2 linked regions of the Homo sapiens genome follow. The protein of the gene in region 1 interacts with the protein of each later gene in a biochemical or structural test. Each region holds a gene or a part of one and is shown on either strand. Other genes may lie near its edges.

Region 1 (11,264 bases):
CTGGGCTCAAGCAATCCTCCCTCCTCAGCCTCCCAGAGTGCTAGGATTACAGTTGTGAGTCACCACACCTGGCCCTTCTTATTATTGAGTAAAAGTTCTTTATATTTTCCGGATAGGGGTCCCTTTAAGATATATGGTTTCAAATATTTACTATCATTTTGTGAATTTTTGCTTTCTTGATAATGTCCTTTGAAGCACTAAGTTTTAAATTTGATGGACTCTGGGTTATCTATTTTTTATTTTTCTTGTCTGTACTTTTGGTATCGTATCTTAAAAAACATTGTCTAATCCAGAGTCAAAATCTATGCATATTTTTTCTAAGAGTTTTATCATTTTGGCTTTTCCAATTAGGTCTTTGATACATTTTGTGTTGCTTTTTGTATCCAATTTCATTCTTTTGTATGTGGAAATCCAGTTGTTCCAGTACCATTTGTTGAAAAGGTTGTTCTCTCTCCAACTGGTCACCCAGGTCTTGGCACCCTTGTTGAAAATCAGTTGACCATAAATGTAAGGGTTAATGTTCTATTGATCTGTAGGTCTGTCCTTGTGCCAATACCACATAGTAGTTTTGTAGTAAGTTTTGAAATCAGGAAGCACGAGTTATCCATCTTCGTTGTTCCTTTTTTTTTTTAATTCAAATATATATATTTTTTCAATCTTTTTAATTCTACATATTTTTGTAAGCATCCCCCCAATTCTTGTTTCATAGTAAATCAGACTGTAGATGAAGCATTTCAGACCTTTTGTCAATCATGTCAAGTGTGAGGGGAAGTCTTTTGTAAGTCAGCCAAGTATTTCAAAATGAAAAGCTTTTCCAAAAGTAAAGGCAGAAGACCCCGCTTTGAAGGCGCTGGTCGGCACAGAAGGGCTTGCAAAGGTATGTAGGGAAGTCCACCGGTTACAGGTGTAAGGTGAGTTTAACCTACGGCGACCAGCTGGCCAGGAGCGCCCCAAGGCAGACGAGGACGTGGGGCTTGGGCGCACGGCCGCCTGCAGCCATCTCGCCCCAGATCCTGGCTCAGGAAACGCAGGCTCGGGCTGGGGTGGATGTGTGCGCCCCAGGGCCCTGGCACCCGGGGGACCGAGGGCTCCTCCCAGGTCCTTGGAACAGCAGAGTGGCTCCCAGGAAGGATGCTCAGCTGCAGGTGGGGGTCCCTGCTCCCAAGCACCCTGGCCAGGGAGGAATGGCGCACCCCACCCCGTTCGCCCCTGTTGTTCCTTTTCAAGATTGTTTTGGCTGTTGATCTTTTTCAATTCCTTATGAATTTAGGATTAGCCTGTCAAATTCCACGAAAAGGCAGCTGGGATTTTTTTTTTTTTTTTTTTGAGATGGAGTCTCAATCTGTCACCCAGGCTGGAGTACAGTGGTGCAATCTTGAGTCTCGGCTCACTGCAACCTCCGCCTCCCGGGTTCAAGCGATTCTTCTGCCTCAGCCTCCTGAGTAGCTGGGACTACAGGTGCGTGCCACCACGCCTGGCTAATTTTAGTAGGGACGGGGTTTCACCGTCTTAGCCAGGATGGTCTCGATCTCCTGACCTCGTGATCCACCCACCTCGGCCTCCCAAAGTGTTGGGATTACAGGCGTGAGCCACCGCGCCTGGCCTTTTTTTTTTTTTTTTAGTAGAGACAGAGTTTCTGCACGTTGGCCAGGCTGGTCTTGAACTCCCGACCTCAGGTGATCCACCTGCCTCGGCCTCCCCAAGTGCTGGGATTATAGGCATGAGCCACCACGCCCGGCCTGAAATTGTTTTATTTCATTTTCAGTTTTGTTTTGTTTTTTTTTTTTTAATAGAGATGAGGTCTCACTATGTTGCATAGGCTGGTCTTAAACTCCTGAGCTCAAGCAATCCTCCTTCCTCAGCCTCCCACAGTGCTGGGTTTATAGGCATGAGTTACAATGCCTAGCCCATTTTTAGTATTTTATAGCTATAGTGGATAGAAATATAATTGATTTTTATATTGACTTGTGTCCTGCAAGCTTGCTGAACTAAATTTATTAGCTCTAATAGGTTTTTTTTTGTGTGTGTGTGGATTCCTTAGGATTTTCTATATATAAGATTGTATCTTCTACAGATACAGTTTTACTTCTTCCTTTCCAATTTGGAAGCCTTTTGTTTTATTTTCTTGCTTAATTGCCCTGGTTCAAACCTCTAGTACCATGTTGAATAGAAATGATGGGACTGGGCATCCTTGTTAGGTTTTGTTATTAAGGAGAAAGTGTTCGGTCTTTCACCTTTAAATATAATATTAGCTGTGGGGTTTTCATCAGGTTAAGGAAATTTTTTTTTTTTTTTTTTTTTTTTTTAGATAGTGTCTCACTTGGTCACCCAGGCTGGAGTGCAGTGGCGCAATCTTAGCTCTCTACAGCGTCGATCTTCCTCCTGGGCTCAAGCAATTCTCCTGCTTCATCCTCCTGAGTACCTAGGACTACAGGCAAGTGCCACCATGCTTGGCTAATTTTTGTATTTTTTGTAAAGATGATGTTTTGCCCTGTTGCCCAGGCTGGTCTCAAACTCCTGAGCTCAAGCAATCCGCCCACCTCAGCCTCCCAAAGTGCTGAGATTACAGGCATGTGCCACTGAGCCTGGCTGAGGAAGTTTCTTTTTGTTCTTAAATGGCTTTCTTTTTTTTTTTTTTTTTTCGTAAAAGGATGTTGGATTTTGTCAAATGCAATTTCTGCACCTTTTGAAATGATTGTTTTAGTTCTTATTGTATATCATGTTGATTGATTTTTGTATGTTGAACCAGCCTTGCATTCTTAGAATAAATCCCACTTGGTCAAGGTGTATAATCTTTTTGTGTATGTTAAATGATATTTAATGTATAATAAATTTAAACCTTTCTTTGCCCCAACAGAAAATGATCCACAGTCTATTTCTCATAAACTGTTCCGGTGACATATTTCTAGAGAAGCACTGGAAGAGCGTTGTGAGCCAGTCTGTCTGTGATTATTTCTTTGAAGCTCAAGAGAAAGCTGCTGATGTTGAAAATGTACCACCTGTCATTTCAACACCTCACCACTACCTCATCAGTATCTACCGGGATAAGCTCTTCTTTGTATCTGTCATACAGACCGAAGTGCCACCTCTCTTTGTAATTGAGTTCCTACATCGAGTTGCTGACACTTTTCAGGTTGGTTATCTATCATACCTTTCTAAGTTAAATGACCCAAGTTAGCTGAAGGTGAGACATGATTATATTATTTAATTACCCAGGTTTTGATGTTTACTGTCTGTCTCTCTCTGTTTAAGCGTAAATTCATAAGCCCTTTTCTGTGTGGTATACAGTTACACACATGGCTGCTCTATTCACTATTTTTTATATGTATTACAGATTACAGTTGGCTCTCCATATACATGGGTTCTGCATCCATAAAGTCACCCAACCTTACATGGCAAATATTTGAACAAAAAAATCGAACTGAACATGTACAAACTTCTTCTCATTATTACTTGAACAATACAGTATAACAAATAGTTACATAGCATTTACACTGTGTTAGATATTACAAGTAATCTAGAGGTGATTTAAAGTATATAGGAGGATGTGTATAAGTTATGTGCAAATACTATGCCATTTTATGTCAGCGACTTGAGAATTGTGAACTTTGGTATCTACAGGGGATCCTGGAACTAATTCCCACAAATACCAAGGGATGACTGTATATCATCAGGAAACAATAATGCCCTCCGCATACAGTTCTCTCAATGGTCTCAAGATTTTCATTGGTTATGAACTCTTCTATATTTACATTTTATTATTTTGTCTTGCGGAATATACCAAATAATTTAAGCTTATCTATATGTATTTTGGGATAATCAGGGTGAATGAAGTTTATAGCTCAAATTCCAATTTAATGTTTCAATACTTTCTGGTATAATATGTAATAGGAATTAAATTCAACCTAGAAATATCAAGAAAATATTGAGGAATAATATTAGGACTATAGAGGGGTTTTTTTTGTTTGCTTGTTTTGTTTTGTTTTGTTTTGTTTTGTTTGAGACGGAGTCTCACTCTGTTCCCTAGGCTGGAGTGCAGTAGCATGATCTTGGCTCACCGCAACCTCCGCCTCCCGGGTTCAAGCAATCCTCCCGCCTCAGCCTCCCAAGTAGCTGGGACCACAGGTGTGCACCATCACACTCAGCTAATTTTTGTATTTTTAGTAGAGACAGGGTTTCACCATGTTGGCCAGGCTGGTCTTGAATTCCTGACCTCAAGTGATGCATCCGCCTCAGCCTCCCAAATTGCTGGGATTACAGGCATGGGCCACCATGCCCGGACTATAGAGGGTTTTTTCCCCCGCTCTGTTTTATATATGTTCAGCAGCTTAAGCAATGAATTATGCTACTCTAAGTTTATTCTTCAGAACAAAAAGTATTTAGCAGGCCTTTCTTTTTGCCTTCCATTGTGTGATATTTTGTGTGTATTTTGTCAGGACTACTTTGGTGAGTGTTCAGAGGCTGCAATTAAGGATAATGTGGTCATAGTATATGAACTCTTAGAAGAAATGTTAGACAATGGATTTCCACTGGCTACCGAATCTAACATTTTGAAAGAATTGATTAAACCACCAACAATTCTACGCTCTGTTGTCAACTCTATTACAGGTAAGATGAAAACATACTGTGCTAGTAACTGAGCAATTAAAACTTTGTAAACAACTCATTATTGCTCATGATCTGACATATTATTAAGGTAGTACAATTTGGCCATAATTAAAGTTACTGGTAAAGTTAAAATGGATGTACTATATATTTATTTTCATGGAAAGAGGCTAGACCTTAAGTGATAAAGAACTTTTGGTTATTACTCTTTTTTTTTTTCTAAAACACCACAACAATATTATTACCATTATTTAACACTAAATACTAAGACTGAATAAATTGTTCCAGTTATTCCTAAAGAAGCCAGTATATGAGCCCACTTAGAAGAGAATTTAGTCCATTTATAGACTGGCATTTTAATATTTAAAATAGCATTACATAACTGGTATGCTGCTACTCCACAATTACTAGAGAATAGAAAATTTAAGACGCTTAACCACACAGTACTACAATCTCCTCCAAGTCTTTGTTTTTATGCATTCAGAAGATGTATTAAGAAAAAATAGGAAATAGTTTACTTATGAGATCTCATGCATTGTGGGCCTGTACTTGTGTTGTAAGCTTCCAGCTGGGTTTAATTCTTGAGTGTAGCTAGAAATTAGGCACATCCAGATACCAATATTCTTTCGAAAGCATTAAAGTCTTTTAGACAAAGATTCCTATGAAATGTTATATGCCACTCCAACTCCACTGTCAACCATTGTAAACCCCTGTCCAGTGCCTTGACCTAAAAATGAGGTGAGAGAGGCCTATAAGAAAAAGATCATTCAGCAGCTCTTTATTCATCCTTTGTGTAAGGACGAATGTTAGGAGAAATTCAAAGAAAGATAAGATGGTGTGTCTGTACTCCTAAAACTTATACTCTGAATGGGACATTGGAAAAAAAATTAAGTAAATAACTGTATAAGACTTTAAAAAGCAATTCCATACTTCACAGATAAAGTAATAGCATTGGAAAATAAATACACATGATGTAACGTTAAATTGAAAAGTCAGCACAAAACTGAAAAAAATTATTCTTATATATAAATATTCACTCCGACAAAAAAGTATTTACAATGATTATACCCAGCTAAATACAGATTATATTTATTTTTGCTTTATACTTTCTAATTTTCCAAAATAAACATGTATTTTATAGTCAGAGAAAAGTTACTAAAATATATAATGCAAAACATAACAGATTCATTAGATAGTGTATTACAAAGTTCAAGAGAATGGTTCCATTAATGAAGTAATCCCTCCTGAACTGTGGTGGGTGGCCACCTTGGAAAATCAGTAGAATTCAGGAAGTGAGGAAGGAATAAGAGCATTCTCCATGGTGGAACTGTATGAGAAAAAAACACACATGAAAGAGAAAAACCTAAAGTTTTATTAATCCCTTTAGCAGAAGCAGAACTGTTTTTCACTTGAGAAGTTAGAGATCAAATTAAAAAGTAGAGAAAGTCCTTCAAAGCTAGGATAAATATTTAGCTTTTATCATAAAGCCAGTGAGCAAACATTGAACGTTTTTGAGCAGGAAGATAACATGATTATAGGTTGCAGGTAGGAACACCAATCATAAGTAGACTGCAAAATTGTAGATACAGTATGATTGCGACTATATTTTAAAGTGCAATTAAAAACCAAAATTATCAAAATAGAAAAAAATGCAACCTTCTGGTGGTGGAAATATTCAAAGAAATATACCAAAATGTTAATATTATATTAAAATGTTAATACCATAATATTAACAAAAATGTTAATGGTAGATATATTTTGTTAGTAAGAAGACAGGTGTTTTTCTTTAAACCACTTCTCTGAACTCTACCTTTTTGTTGTTGTTAAGTATGTAGTACTTTCGAATGGGAAATATAAATTAACCAAAATATTAAGTAAGTCACAGCTCAAAGATATGTGTTTTGGACAACCAGACTTATTTTTAGGCATGTGTCAGTTTACCAGGAAATGAGCTGGATACTGAATACTAGCTATATTGCAGCCGTATGGGTATGCTGACCTTAAAATAGGAAAAGGCCAGATTCCATTTACTCCACTGAGGCGTGCTTGGCAGCATCTCATGTAAAATAAAGTTGAATACTGAAGGGCCTAGTTATAACTCTGTATTCTCACTGGAGACATTTTATTGGCAGAAGGTTTTGAAACAACCAACCTCTTTTTTCATCAGTGGCAGAGATTCTGTTGTTGAGCCACTGGAATTAGATTAGATTACTGTTAACACACAGGAGGCAAAAGATAAGTAAATAAATTTAACCTGGTTTGGCAGGTAGACAGAGGGCCACATGGCCTATATTTCTTTTCTAGAAATTTGATCATGTTGGTATGGATATGTCTGACAATTCTAGTGACCATCCACAACTTCATTAAGAAAAATCCAAACATTGAAGAAGCAGCTTTTTTTTTCCTAGTAATAAATTTTCTCATGACTGTTTTATACATCAGCTTTGCCTTCTCCTTTTTTGGTTTCTAGGCAGTAGTAATGTTGGGGACACACTCCCCACCGGGCAGCTGTCCAACATACCATGGCGTCGGGCAGGGGTAAAGTACACAAACAATGAAGCCTATTTTGATGTTGTTGAAGAAATAGACGCAATTATAGATAAATCAGGTAATTGTGTGCATGTCATCTTATTTGGGGAAAAACAATTCATCTGACACAGATGAATAGAAAACTGAAGTCCTGGCCGGGCGCGGTGGCTCACGCCTGTAATCCCAGCCCTTTGGGAGGCCAAGGCAGGCGGAACATGAGGTCAGAGTTCGAGACCAGCCTGGCCAACATGGTGAAACTCTGTCTCTACTAAAGATACAAAAAATTAGCCGGGCATGGTGGCGCGCACCTGTAATCCCAGCTACTCGGGAGGCTGAGGCAGGAAAATTGCTTGAACCCAGGAGGCAGAGGTTGCAATGAGACAAGATCATGCCATTGCACTCCAGCCTGGCTCTGTCTCAACAAAAAAAAAAAAAAGAAGAAGAAAGGAAAAGAAAATTGAAGTCCTTTGGCAGTATGGTTTCGGTGGAAAGGCATTCATTATCTGATGATTTTTAAATCTGTTTGTTTATTTATTTATTTATTTGAGACGGGGTCTCACACTGTTGTCCAGGCTGGAGTGCAATCACATGATCTTGGCTCACTGGAACCTTCACCTCCTGGATTCAAGCGATCCTGCTGCTTCAGCTTCCCAAGTAGCTGGGATTACAGGCATGAGCCACCACACCTGGCTAAATTTTTTTTTTTTTTTTGAGACGCAGTTTCACTCTTATTGCCCAGGGTGGAGTGCAATGGTGCAATCTCAGCTCACCGCAACCTCCGCCTCCCGGGTTCAAGCAGTTCTTCTGCCTCAGCCTCCCGAGTACCTGGGATTACAGGCATGCACCAGCATGCCCAGCTAATTTTGTGTTTTTGGTGGAGATGGGATTTCTCCACGTTGGTCAGGCTGGTCTCGAACTCCTGAACTTAGGTGATCTGCCCGTTTCGGCCTCCCAAAGTGTTAGGATTACAGGCGTGAGCCACCGCTCCCGGCCCTGGCTAATTTTTTGTATTTTTAGTAGAGACGGGGTTTCACAATGTTGGCCAGGCTGGTCTCAAGCTCCTAACCTCAAGTGATCCACCTGCCTTGGCCTCCCAAAGGGCTGGGATTACAGGCGTGAGCCACTGCACCTGGCCCATAAATCTGTTTATTTTGCCCATAGGTTACATATAATTTTCATAACCACTAGTTGAGGTCTGCCAAACATGTAAATCAGAACTCATAATGCCTTACTTTAAGCCAATTATTACCCTATGTACCTCTACCTCTTGCTATTTATTCCTTCTAACATTTATTGAAAATCTGCTATATACCATGCTTTTGCTACTACATTATGTGCAGTACTTCTGGTAAAAGCCCCTATCTGATTATTTTTCACTTTCTTTTTTTTTTTTAAGTACAGGGTCTTGCTCTTTTGCCTAGGCTGGAGTGCATTGGCGCAGTCCCTGCTTACTGTAGCCTTGACCTCCAGCTCATGTGATCCTCCTACCTCAAACTCCTGAGTAGCCTATAGTCCCAGCCAATCAGGAGGTACACGCCACACGCCACCATGCCTGGCTAACTTTTATTTGTTTTTTTTGTACAGACAGGGTCTCACCATGTTGCCCAGGCTGGTCTTGAACTCCTGGGCTCAATCAGTTTACCTACCTCAGCCTCCCAAAGTGCTGGGATTACAGGCATCAGCCACCACACCCAATCTGATTATCTTTTTAACCAGACAAAACAATAGTACTCTATAAGAATCGTAAAATTTTATTATTAAAAATAGCAGCCGGGCATGGTGGATCACGCCTGTAATTCCAGCACTTTGGGAGGCCGAGGCAGGCAGATCACTTGAGGTCAGGAGTTTGAGACCAGCCTGGCCAACATGGTAAAACCCCGTCTCTACTATAAATACAAAAATTAGCTGGGCGTGGTGGCAGGCGCCTGTAAACCCAGCTACTTGGGAGGCTGAGGCAGGAGAATTGCTTGACCCTGGGAGGCAGAGGTTGCAGTGAGCCAAGATTGCACCACTGCACTCCAGCCTGGGTGACAGAGTGAGACTCCATCTCTAAAAAAACAAAAAAAGAAAAAAGAAAAAAAATCTAGTCCTTCCTTTACATTTATTTTACACATAAGGAAAGCCCAGAAGGGTTAAGTGAACTGTTCCAGGTCACACAACTTGTTAATATGTAATGATGGCTTATTGTGAATTATAGTCAATATCTTCTCTTCCATGAGTCCCCTTTTCATTATAACATTCCATCTTATAGAATAATAGATTTTTGCCAGGCACGGTGGCTCACACCTGTAATCCCAGCACTTTGGGAGGCTTAGGCAGGAAGATCACTTGAGCCCAGGAGTTCAAGACCAGCCTAGGCAACATAGCAAGACCCCATATCTATCAAAAATTTAAAAGATTAGCTAGGCATGGCTTCCTTAATCCTACCTATTCAGAAGGCTGAGGCAGGAGGATTGCTTGAGCCCAGGAGTTCAATGCTGTGGTGAACTATGTTCACACCACTGTACTCCAGCCTGGATGGCAGAGGGAGACCCTGTCTCTTAAAAAAAAAGAGATATCTTTCTATTATGGATCCTATTTCTTAAAAGTTAACTTAGTCCATTTCATAATACACTTGCCACATTTTAAAATTCTATTGAAGCCGGGCGCGGTGGCTCACACCTGTAATCCCAGCACTTTAGGAGGCTGAGGCGGGTGGATCACGAGGTTAGGAGATCCAGACCATCCTGGCTAACACAGTGAAACCCCATCTCTACTAAAAATACAAAAAATTAGCTGGGTGTGGTGGCAGGCGCCTGTAGTCCCAGCTACTCGAGAGACTGAGGCAGGAGAATGGCGTGAACCCGGGAGACAGAGCTTGCAGTGAGCCCAGATAGCGCCACTGCACTCCATCCAGCCTGGGTGACAGAGCAAGACTCCGTCTCAAAAAAAAAATTAAAAAAAAATAAAATTCTATTGAAAATGGTTTTGGTTGGTTTGTTTTATTTTGTTTTTGAGACAGAGTCTCACATTGTCGCCCAGGCTGTAGTGCAGTGTTGTGGTTTCAGCTCACTGCAACCTCCGCCTTCTACGTTCAAGCGATTCTCCTGCCTCAGCCTCCCAAGTAGCTGGGACTACACGCACACACCACCACGCCTGGCTAATTTTTTGTATTTTTAGTAGAAACGGGGTTTTGCCATGTTGCCCAGGCTGGTCCCAAACTCCTGAGCTCAGATAATCTACCCACGTCAGCCTCCCTAAGTGCTAGGATTACAGGCATGAGCCACTGCGTCCTGCCAAATGTTTTAAACTCATATCCAGTCATCTTACAGGGTTGGCTCCATAAAGGAAACAGTTTAATTTTCCTTAGAATTAGCATATTCTGGCTGGGTATGGTAGCTCACACCTGTAATCCCAGCACTTTGGGAAGCTAAGGTAGGCGGATTGCTTGAGCCCAGAAGTTTGAGACCAGCCTGGGCAACATAACAAGACCCTGTCTCTACAAAAAAAATACAAAAATTAGCCAGGCGTGGAGGTGCATGCCTGTAGTACCAGCTGCTTGGGAGGCTGAGGTGGGAGGATTGCTTGAGCCCAGGAGGTTGAGGCTGGCTATCATAGCACCACTACGCTCCAGCCTGGGTGACAGAGCAAGACCCTGTCTCAAAAAAAAAAAAATTATATTCTACAGTGGCATACCTGTAGTCTCAGTTACTCTGGGGACCAGCTGGGACTAGCTAGTCAGACTTTATCTCTTAAAAATAAAAGAATTATTATTATATTCCAGCCAGAGTTAAGTATGGACCTTGTCCCCTGACCTGTTAATAGAGATGTAAAGCTTCAGTTAATCTGACACCCAGAGGGTATCTCTATTGTTCTAGATGTAGTGATTGTTGGGCTAGGTGTCATGGCACGCACCTATATTCCCAGCTATTTGGGAGGCTAGGGCAGGAGGATTACTTGAGCCCAGGAGTGAGGCTGCAGTGAGCTATGATCATACAACTGCACTCCAACCTTGGCAACAGAGCAAGACTCTGTCTCTAAAAACAATAAATAAAAATAAAAAGATACAGTGATAGGTCTAGTGAAGACTCATATTCCATTGATGTTATCTTCCTTTTTTTTTTCTTTCTTCAGGATCTACAGTCTTTGCA
Region 2 (11,264 bases), on another chromosome or scaffold:
AAAACAATGTCTAATAACCCCAGTTAAGCCACAGCTTTGTGCTTTGCAAGCCTGTGCATGGAAGCAGAAGCTACGGCACAGGGTGTGCAGAGAGCCACCCCGCCACTCGGGCCCGAGCTCCACCGCTGCTCCCAGTGGTCCCAGAAACCCCAGTTACTTTCTGGGTCTCCATCCTGGCCTTAACAGACTGGCTCAAGGTGCACTGGCCCCAGGTGTCAGTGCCGTTGCCCCCTGGGGAACTCCCTCCGTGCAGGGCTCCTCACATGGTCTAGCCAGCCTCCAAGTGGTCTAGCCATGAAATGAGGTCCCAGGTCACCCCCTTCATCATCCTTGACCAGTGCTTTCCAAAAAAGCAGCTTTTTCAGAATTGAACAGGAAACCACCTTTCAAACTAGTCTTTGCTGATGCAAGGTTCGTGTGATTTTGTGTACAGTTCTTCTATAGATTTTTTGAGATAGCAATCTGTTTTGTAAAATGTTTATCTTTTAAAAAGAAGCTCAAATAGGCAAAGCCTCATTTGTCCTATGATGGTAACTTTTTTTTTTTTTTTTTTTTTTTTTTTTTTGAGACGGAGTCTTGCTCTGTTGCCCAGGCTGGAGTGCAGTGGTGTGATCTCGGCTCACTGCAACCTCCGCCTCCCCAGTTCAAGCGATTCTCCTGCCTCAGCCTCCCGAGTAGTTGGGATTGCAGGCATGTGCCACCATGCCCTGCTAATTTTTGTATTTTTAACTAAAGGAGGGGTTTTGCCATGTTGGCCAGGCTGGTCTTGAATGCCTGACCTCAGGTGATCCGCCCACCTCAGCCTCCCAGTGCTGGGATTACAGGTGTGAGCCACTGCGCCCAGCTGAGGGTAACTATTTTTAATGTGGCTGATGAATGTAACTATCCTGTCCCATGTCTCTGTCCCCAGCTGCAGAGCCCTCGTCGAGTGCTTGCCTTTTAGCTGCCCAGTGTCAAGAGTAAGCTAGCAAGAAATAATCTTGAATGACATTAATACAGGACTGCATTTTGCTCTTTTTTTTGGTTTTGTTTTGTTTGAGATGGAGTCTTGCTCTGTCGCCCAGGCTGGAGTACAGTAGCACCATCTCGGCTCACTGCAACCTCCGCCTCCCGGGTTCAAGCAGTTCTCTTGCCTCAGCCTCCCAAGTAGCTGGGATTACAGGTGCCTGCCACCACACCCAGCTAATTTCTGTATTTTTAGTGGAGACAGGGTTGCACCATGTTGGCCGGGTTGGCCTCAAACTCCTGACCTCAGGTGATCCACCTGTCTTGGCCTCCCAAAGTGCTGGAAGTATAGGCATAAGCCACTGTGCCTGGCCACCTTTTGCTCTTGAAAAACATTCTGATCTGCTTGTTGCTCTGGTTGCTGAATCTTTTTTTTTTTTTTAAAGGCCAGTGCAGTGGCTCACGCCTGTAATCCCAGCACTTTGGGAGGCCGAGGCGGGCAGATCACGAGGTCAGGAGTTTGAGACCATCCTGGCCAACATGGTGAAACCCCGTCTCTACTGAAAATACAAAAATTAGCAGGGCATGGTGGCGGGCACCTGTAGTCCCAGCTACTTGGGAGGCTGAGGCAGGAGAATCGCTTGAACCCAGGAGGCGGAGGTTGCAGTGAGCCAAGATCGTGCCACTGCACTCCAGCCTGGCAACAGAGCAAGACCCTGTCTCAAAAAAAAAAAAAAAAAAAAAAAAAAGGACCGTGTAATCCTCTGTCCAGCATCTGGTTGGTTTGTTCATTTTAGGAGTTGCGGGAGCTTCAGGACGAGAAGGCAGAGCTGCAGAAGATCTGCGAGGAGCAGGAACAAGCCCTCCAGGAAATGGGCCTGCACCTCAGCCAGTAAGAACCCCACTCCCCTTGTCTGCCACTGCAGGCACACCAGGCTACCCACCACATCCCTCAGGCCCCAAACCTACCTCCTTTTGGCGAACGGAGGGTGGGCCATTTAGGAGCTCAGTCCGCCGTTCACGGATGAGCTCTCAGGAAGCCCGGCCTCAGAGGGGCCCAGCACTGATCTCTGCTACCCACATGGGGTGTCAGCGAGCTCTTAGTTAATTCAGGAAGCACGTTCATTCCTAGTGACCAGGACACTCCTATTCCTTAGCTTCATATCCAGGGCCTGAGGGAACAGATGGGCAATGAGAGGATCGCTTGGTCAGCCTACAGTCAGGCCAGAGGGAGCAGGGCTGGTTTGGGAACGGAAGCCTGGCACAGTAGAGGTGCACTCACCCGCCTTGCACAGCACAGCCCCCTTCCTTTCGGGGAACTGGCCACTGCATCCGCCAGAGTCTGTCTGTCTCTGCTGCAGGTGCTGATGGGGTGCAGACCCTGGTAGTTCTGCTCCCCTCTGACTTGACAGCTCTCCTCCTTGGTGTCCCAGTCTAGATAGGTTGCTGTGGACGCCTGGGCCTTGGGGTGGATCACACTGCGGACTGTGGAACTTGCCCATTTGTGTGATGATTCTGCATTTTCAACATAGTGGGTAGCTTTTCTCCTCGAGTCAGGGCGCATGGTTGCAAGTAACAGAAATCCAACTCAAAGTGGCTTAAGCAAAAGAAGCCATCAGGAATCGGTCTCTGTCTCCTACCTCTGCTATCCTGTCTGCCTCACAGGTGGGTCTGGACCCTGCAGGGGCAAAACAGCACTCAGCAAGGCCATCTATCAGAGGAACAAACTCCCTCTTCTTTGTGCATAGCTGCCAGGATCACCCGAGATTGACCCTGCTCCCGAGTACCCATGCCTGACATAAGCACCATGACCAAGGAGATGGGGCTCACGACCTCAGCACAGCCTGGTCTGCACCAGAAATTTGTAGAGTCTAGTACTATTAAGAAAATAGGCCGGGTGCGGTGGCTCACGCCTGTAATCTCAGCACTTTGGGAGACTGAGGTGAGCAGATCACCTGAGGTCAGGAGTTCGAGACCAGCCTGGCCAACATAGTGAAGCCCCGTCTCTACTAAAAATACAAAAATTAGCCAGGCATGGTGGGCACCTGTAATCCCAGCTACTCGGGAGGCTGAGACAGCAGCATCGCTTGAACCCGGGAGGCAGAGGTTGCAGTAAGCCGAGATTGCACCACTGCACTCCAGCCTGGGCAACAAAAGTGAGAATCCATCTCAAAAAAAAAAAACAAATAGCTGGTCAGGGAATCTGATGTCTCTGGTGGGAATGCGGTCTGCCCACTCCCAGATGCAGGTGCTGGCCACTCGCCGTCTCTCCTGTGCCTCTTACCTTTCTAGACTAGCCCATGGCCGCTGCTTCCTCCCCTCCCACCCTCCGCCCTGCCTGCCACCCACTCAGCTGAGTGCCCTGTGCTGCTCCCGTCTGGCCTGTCAACTTGCCGTGCTCTGGCCCGTTCCTTCCCAACCCCCAGGGAGCTCCTTGAGGGACGCAAGGCCCAGTGTCTGTCCCCATGCTCAGAGCATAGGCCAGCTGTGAGGGCATCCCGAGAGCACTCACCAGAAGCAGACGTGGAACAGAGCTGGCGTGGAGCTGGCTTCTGGGGTTTGCAGCCAGTGTTTTCCTCTTTACATTGGATGGACAGCAAGGCAGTGTCACAGGTCCCCTCCTAGTGGACCATAGACCTCGAAACTGTGGTTGGTCTCTGATCTTTAAAATGTATCATTGTGGCCGGGTGTGGTGGCTCATGCCTGTAATCCCAGCCCTTTGGGAGGCTGAGGTGGGTGGATCACCTGAGGTCAGGAGTTCAAGACCAGCCTGACCAACGTGGAGAAACCCCATCTCTACTAAAAATATAAAATTAGCCGGGCATGGTGGAGCGCGCCTGTAATCCCAGCTACTCAGGAGGCTGAGGCAGGAGAATCGCTTGAACCTGGGAGGCGGAGGTTGCGGTGAGCCGAGATCGCGCCATTGCACTCCAGCCTGGGCAATAAGAGTGAAACTCTGTCTCAAAAACAAACAAACAAATGTATTGTTGCACTTTGTGGCCGCCTGGCACTACCGGCTAACCTAGCTTCCAAATCCCAGTGTGAGCTGCCTGGCCACCATTCCCTCCCAGTGAGTGCTGTGGGTGTCACAGCATCAGGTGTTTGCAAACCCAGACAGGACTACCTGAGGAGTTGCTTTTGTGCTCTCTCCCCTCTTCCCTTCTTCCTCTTGCAAGCCTATACCGGATGACAGAGATGGCAAAGCCTCTTCGCAGGCCCTACATTAGCTACAGGAACAGTTTCCAGTTTCATTGGCTTGGGAACATCTGGATTCTTCCTAAATTGTGTTTCCCAGAGTTCTTGTATGTTCAGTTTGCCTTGTTGACCTGGCTTCCCAAGGTCTGTCCATCTGCGCAGCCTCTTCTCATCCTGTCAATCTGCTGGCCTATTTCCTGTTTCTGCAGCCGGACCAGGAAGGGAAGGAGCTGCCTCCCGATCTTTAGTAAAAGCCACAGGGATTTTTCTAAATGCCCTGATGCTGTTTTCTAATCCCTCCCTTCGAAGTCTAGCCTGTGTTTCCCAGAGACCTGCCATTTTGTCACTGAGATGAGTCTAATCTGATGATAGTTCAGACTGATCTCAGCTTTTAAGAAAGACCCAGGCCAGGCTGGGCGTGGGGGCTCAGGCCTCTAATCCCAGCACTTTGGGAGGCCGAGGCAGGTGGATCACTTGAGGTCAGGAGTTCAAGACCAGCCAGGCCAATATGGTGAAACCCCATCTCTAGTAAAAGTACAAGAAAATAAGCTGGGTGTGGTGTCGGGCGCCTGTCATCCCAGCTACTTGGGAAGCTGAGGCAGGAGAATTGCTTGAGCCCAGGAAGCAGAGGTTGCAGTGAGCCGAGATCACACCACCGCACTCCAGCCTGGCCAATGCAGCAAGACTCCATCTCAAAAAAAAAAAAGAAAAAAAGAAAAAGGCTCAGGCCTATAATCCTAGCACTTTGGGAGGCTGAGGCAGGTGGGTCAATTGAGGTCAGGAGTTCAAGACCAGCCTGGGCAACATGGCAAAACCCCACCTCTAGAAAAAATACAAAAATTAGCCAGGCGTGATGGCATGCACCTGTAGTCGCAGCTACTTGGGAGACTAAAGTGAGAGGATCACTTGAGCCCAGGAGGTCAAGGTTGCAGTGAGCCATGATTGCACCACTGCATTCCAGCCTGGGCAATATAGCAAGATCCTGTCTCAAAAAAAAAAAAAAAAGGATCAGACTGTTTCCCTCAATTGCACAAACTGCTTCATTTTATTTGGTTTAGTTCTGCCAATTTAGACCATGTTCAGTCCTGTCTCTTGTGTAAACAAAGGAATTGTTCTGACACTGAACAAGAATGGAGCAAGAACAAATGGCTATGCCATCTGAGCCTTCCCCCTTCCAGACAGCAGGCAGCAGAATGGAGGCCGGGGAGAAGCCTGCAGACTCAGGTTCCTGCTGGGGAGAGCGGTAGAGACTAGTGCAGAACAGGGCCAGGTCTTGGACTTCTGGCCTCAGGCCATCCTCTCGCCTCAGCCTCCCTCAAAGTCTTTTTGAGCCCCTGCAGGCTAAGCAGTGTGTTCTCGTGCCAGATGCAGTCCCAGGCTCAGCCTCAGCCCTCAGCAGACGGGAGCCAGTGTGATGAGGCAACTCTGGGATTGTACAGAGGCGGAAGGCATTTTAACAACTCACGTTCTGGGTCTCCTCACAAGTCCGGTATCCTCACAAAGCTAGTCCTGAGAGCCAGCTGTGTTAGGGATTCAGAGCCTCACTCTCTCTCACTGCTATGAAATGGCCTTTTTTTTTTCCTTAGGTCCAAGCTGAAGATGGAAGATATAAAAGAAGTGAACCAGGCACTGAAGGTACTGCCTTGCTAAGAACCACTTCTTTGCTGTCAGCTTGTGCTGACTGCCCGTGTGCTCGTACGTTTAAGTATCCCAACAGTCAGGTGAGAGCGTGTGGTTGAGGCAGTGGTGATGACGTATTGACAGAGAAGCCAAACGCTGCTCAGAAACGTGTCCCTCGGCTGAGGGCGATGCTGACAGGTGGCCGAAGCTGAGCCTAGGTCTTCCGACTCCAGTTCCTCCACCATCAGCTGTGCTTTCAAAATAGGCCTGATGGGCATTCCCTAAGGGGGAAGCAGGTGGCGGAGAGGAGGGACCCGCGGATATCTTTAAACAGTGGAAAACAGGCCCTTCTGTTGAAGTGAGGGGCCAGAGGCCAGCCAGCCCCACTGCAGTGCCCTGTGCCATTGCTAGGGACCACTCAAGCCAAGCCCTGAGTTGGGCCAGGTTTCCGCACCCTGGTGGGGAGGGCAGAATGACACATTCCACCGAAAAGCAGGAGTTTGCAGGTGGCCCGGTGTGGGTGCGGGTGCCAGGCTGAGCTGCAGGGCGGAGAGTGTGGGAGAGGAGGCAGACATTCGGGGGCACGGCAGCCTGGCCTTCAAGACAGCCTTGCCTGCAGGAGCACCCCGCTTCGGCCTCAGCTGTGCCGTGGCAGCAATGCAAAAGCAGTCCCTTTGCACACTGTTCCACGTGGTGCAGAGCAGGGACCCTGATGTCTCTGGGCATCTAACTTCCAAGTGCCAGGTCAGGGGCAGCAACTAACAGCAGCCGGGACTTCTAGGTAATATCAGTTTCACAGCATCAGAGGATAGAAATCATAAAACAGGACTCTAGAGCCGCCAGAGCTCTTTGATGTCAGGATGAATGTCCTGGGCACACACTGGCAGCCCCAAGGGTATATGGCTCTAGCTCAGTCTGTGAGGATCTATTTGTCAGCAAGAAAATCTTGTCCAGCAGATGTTAACAGGCCAGAAAAGTACCTCATGCCTTTGACTTCTCTGGAACACCCCAGTCCCTAAGCCCAAATAAATCACAGGTGCTGCTTCGCCCTGAGAAAGCCCTCTGAGGGGCCACCTTTCAAAGCCTCAGCCGCCTCCCCTGTGGAATGGAGTCCATGTGCTCCCCAGGGCTGGTCAAGAATCAGGGCTTTGGCCCGCATGGAGAAGGGCTTCCTCAGGCCTGTGGGACGCAGTGCCCGCTGTCCATCACCTTCTGTCTCTCCACAAGGATCAGCGTCAACAAGTGTCTTAGTCTCACTCAGATTTGGCCCTTCTTCCGCGCCTGCCAGTTCAGCTAGCACTTCGGCCAGTGTCTCAGGCAGGGTCTAGGGTTGCAGGCACCAGAAGCTCGCTCTGCTTACTTCAGCCAAAGGGAACTGATTGAAAGTGGGAGTGTGCCTGAGTGAGCAGATGCTGGAGACCGCCTGGAGGCCCCAGGGCAGCCTGCAGAGGCCAAGAGGTGGAGCACGGAGCTAGGATGCAGAAATCCCGGCTGCGGCCAGACGGGGAAAGAGCCCCTTGATGACAGTCCTGTGAGGCCCCATCTGATGGAGAAACAGTGCCTCACTAGGAAACAGGTGCTATGAGGGACAATGGATGTGGCCAGAACGCAGCTACCCACTCATCAGGGGCTTAGACAGAAAGTGGATTCTAGAATGTCCTTTCCTCTTCAGGGCCACGCCTGGCTGAAAGATGACGAAGCGACACACTGTAGGCAGTGTGAGAAGGAGTTCTCCATTTCCCGGAGAAAGGTACGTGGGGGCTCCACCCACCCTCCCAGTGCCCTGAGTCGTTGCCCGCTGGATTCCCCTTTCTCTGGTTCCAGAAGCCCATATCAGAGCAGGCTCACTGCCCGGTGACTGTGCTGACTGTGGCAGATGGGCAGCCCCGCCTCTCCTGTTTGCCTGTGCAGATGGCTTTCCATCCTGGCACCCTCTTTCTGGGAGGCCTTGGCCAGTCATAGGCCCCTGGTCTCCAGCACATCCTTTCAGTGATTGACAATGATTTTTGGGGAGATGGGGCTCCTTGTGTGCAGAGCTGCTCTAGGGGAGTGTCATTGAAAATTCTCTGTATGCGGCAGGAACAAAATCTGGCCCAACTTAGGCAAAAACAATCTATGGGGAACCTACAGGGCAGCAGGTCACCAAAAATCACTAGTGATCTAGGCAGCGTGCTTGCCCCTGCCCTTTAGGTTCTGGAAACAAGGTCCTAGGCTCACCCTTGGGTCTAGGGTTGACTGGGCCTTATTAACAGTCTCACCAAGACCAGCTGGGTAGGGGAAGAGTTGGGTATAAGCAAAACTGGGAGCTAAAGGAAACACTGCCAGCGCCACCCACCTTTCTGCCACAGCCATGTTCTGTCTGTTCCCATCAACAGCCTAGCTCTGTGGAAGAGAGGAAGCCACAGCTACCCCACCCGCTCCCCAACCCGAGTTTCAGGCAGTGCCTTGCAGTAAGCTCAGAGCTAGAAACCACGTCCTGAGGCTGCCTTTGAGATCACATGTGTCTACAAGGCCTGGCTGTCCCCATCTGTGGAGTCAGAAGCAGAGGCTGCACAGGTGCTCATCTTGATGTCTTATCAGGCACCCAGGGAACCTGTTTAGAAAGGGATCTACTCCACCCCCTTGGAATGCAGCAAAGAGAACGAACCAGACTCTTCCTGTAACATGGACTAGCAGCTCACTGGCTTAGTGATGAAGTACAGCAAAAGTAAACTTTTTGTCTTAAAAACACCCTTAGGCCGGGCACGGTGGCTCATGACTGTAATCCTAGCACTTTGGGAGGCTGAGGTGGGTGGATCACGAGGTCAGAAGTTCAAGACCAGTCTGGCCAAGATGGTGAAACCCCATCATCTCTACTAAAAAAATACAAAAACTAACCGGGCACGGTGGCAGGCACTTGTAATCCCAGCTACTTGGGAGGCTGAGGCAGGAGAATCGCTTGAACCCAGGTGGCAGAGGTTGCAGTGAGCCGAGATTGCGCCACTGCACCCCAGCCTGGGCGACAGAGACTCAAAAAAAAAAAAAAAAGCCGGGCGCGGTGTTTCACGCCTGTAATCCCAACACTTTGGGAGGCCAAGGCGGAGGCAGATCACGAGGTCAGGAGATCGAGACCATCCTGGCTAACATGGTGAAACCCCGTCTCTACTAAAAATACAAAAAATTAGCCAGGTATAGTGGCGGGCACCTGTAGACCCAGCTACTGCCGGAGAATGGCGTGAACCTGGGAGGCAGAGCTTGCAGTGAGCTGAGATCGCGCCACTGCACTGCAGCCCGGGCGACTGAGCAAGACTCTATCTCAAAAAAAAAAAAAAAAAAAGACCCTTGTTTGCACACAGCCCCTCACCACCCCACAGAAACATAAGAACCCATTCCCAGCAAATGATGCGCTTCTGGGTCAGGAAGCAGGGAGGGTGTGCGGATGGCTTTTCCCCGGGTGTCCTGTGACCGCCTTCTTCCCGTCCTGTAGCACCACTGCCGGAACTGTGGCCACATCTTCTGCAACACCTGCTCCAGCAACGAGCTGGCCCTGCCCTCCTACCCCAAGCCGGTGCGAGTGTGCGACAGCTGCCACACCCTGCTCCTGCAGCGCTGCTCCTCCACGGCCTCCTGAACGTCCGTCCTCAGGAGCACAGCCTCACGGACAGTGCCAAACCCTGTGGGTCTCCAGGGGCTTGGGAAATGTGTTCTTTCCCAAGAGTATCAAAGGAAAGAATCAAATTTCTTGCCCGGTCACTGGCACTCCAGAAGACAGCGTGCCGGAACCGGCAGCTCTCACCTTTCTGTGACTTGTTCGGAATTAACTCCTCTGGATGGAAACTTCCATCTTACTTGGTTACATCACGGCTCTGGTTCAGATACAACTTCATGATTTTGCTACTATCATTTTTCACTTTTCAAAGAATTTAACCTATTTTACAGCAGTTCAGTTCTGCTAGTGAGTAGTTTTCCTCTCCTACCTTCCTTCTAAAAACCTGATTCATGCACAGCGTTTGACACACATGGAGTCTGCCAGTGTGCCTTCTCTGCTTCAGACAAGAGATCTGCCATTTCATGCCCTTGTGACTACCTATCATTGGCCCTGCAATAAAATCATTTATTTTTCACTCTGGTGCGTGCAGAAGCTTGTGTCAACTTCCAAAGAGCCCACCGCACCGGAGGAGGCCTCAGAGCGCCCCTCGTGCCCGAGCCCCGTGTGAGTGAGAGGCTGCTGGTGCTGCCCCAGAGCCTGCAGGGCAGCCTGGTGAGCCAAGGGCAGTTTGCAGGGTCAGCCTGCCGTCAACAGGCAGAGGAGGTGACCCCAAGCCTGTCACCAAAGTGCAAGAGTCGTTCACGTACATAGTTGGGAGTTTGATAGGTTACAGATGGAGACACCTGTGAAAAGGCACGTGCCAGGCAGCCATTTTTCACATTTCAAATGCAGCGCTACGACTGGCTTCCAGTCCCTCCCTCGGAGGCCCCCACCCCCAAAGATCCAATGGCCCGGGGCTCCCTTCCGGTAGAGACAACAGCATTATCAAGTCCAGACAGCCAACAGTCAAGTCTTCCAGGCCTCATCCTTCTCCACCTTCTATACACATACCTTGTCCGCGACCCTACCCTCCCTTCCCACGGGCTTCCTACCCTCGCCAAATCCAGGCCTCAGGATTCCACTCCTCCTTTGGGCTCTTCCTCCGAAGCAGGCTCCCCCACGACCTGGTCAGCCCTGGTAGATGCTTGCATGGCACCCTCAACTGAATTCCTCCTCTGCCGCTCCCTCCCCTCAAACCGCTCTGAAGATGGAAAAGGTGGGAGCTTGGGCAAGACTCAAGGATTCCCCCTCCATCCTATACCGCTTAGGACTGTGCGGCCAGACTTCAAGACGAGGTCCGCCCTGCTCCAAAGCCATGTCCTAGCAGGGTTCCAACCCTATTAGGCAAGCACATTGGCAGCCCTCCCCTTTCCTCACCCCTCACCGTAACAGCTGCCGTCTCATACAGGGCCAAACTTTCAGAAAAAACTGCCTATCACTCACTACCCCTAACTGGCATATATGACATCTGTGCCTTTTCAATACACCCAGTTTGGACCCCTAACTTGCTGGGCAGCCTTAGGCAAGTCAGTTCACTTGAGTCTTAGCTCTCATCTGCACACACAAAAGCAGAATAATCTATCCCTCCCCTACTTCAAGTCTGTTCTGACAGCTCAGTATAAAAACATGCAGGAGGTTCCCACCTCTGTGCCTGACACTTGGGTATAAACACAAGTGTTTAAGTGAAATTTTCAAAGTTGGCAATATTTGGTCAAGATAACTTCCCTACTCAGAAACTGAAATATATTCCAAGCCCTAACTCTGGAATCTCCAGTCCCTGGTCTGCTACCATACCACCTTTACCCAGGCCTGAGAAATGAAAGATAGATATTTTAAGGCAGCACTTCCCAAGTCAACTGAGGTAGGGGTGAGTGGTCAGGATTTTGTTTAAAATGCAGATTCCAACTGACAAGGTCAGGAGGTTAAGTTACTGCAA

What was found.
Region 2: the proteins of AP3M1 (region 1) and RUFY1 form a complex in vitro, tested with the Homo sapiens proteins (one study listed by BioGRID).

Annotation. Positions count from the first base shown.
Region 1 is NC_000010.11:74,129,976-74,141,239, reverse strand, and holds part of AP3M1 (AP-3 complex subunit mu-1), read left to right. Parts: intron 1-2,308; exon of another isoform or gene 2,309-2,434; intron 2,435-2,857; 5' UTR 2,858-2,860; coding exon 2,861-3,133; intron 3,134-4,436; coding exon 4,437-4,608; intron 4,609-7,075; coding exon 7,076-7,213; intron 7,214-11,247; coding exon 11,248-11,264. UniProt on the Homo sapiens protein: Part of the AP-3 complex, an adaptor-related complex which is not clathrin-associated. The complex is associated with the Golgi region as well as more peripheral structures.
Region 2 is NC_000005.10:179,600,150-179,611,413, forward strand, and holds the end of RUFY1 (RUN and FYVE domain-containing protein 1), read left to right. Parts: intron 1-1,742; coding exon 1,743-1,837; intron 1,838-1,914; exon of another isoform or gene 1,915-2,117; intron 2,118-2,227; exon of another isoform or gene 2,228-2,623; intron 2,624-3,457; exon of another isoform or gene 3,458-3,592; intron 3,593-5,726; coding exon 5,727-5,775; intron 5,776-7,432; coding exon 7,433-7,510; intron 7,511-8,135; exon of another isoform or gene 8,136-8,316; intron 8,317-8,340; exon of another isoform or gene 8,341-8,467; intron 8,468-9,226; coding exon 9,227-9,370; 3' UTR 9,371-9,863; downstream 9,864-11,264. UniProt on the Homo sapiens protein: Activating adapter involved in cargo sorting from early/recycling endosomes. Regulates retrieval of proteins from endosomes to the trans-Golgi network through interaction with the dynein-dynactin complex.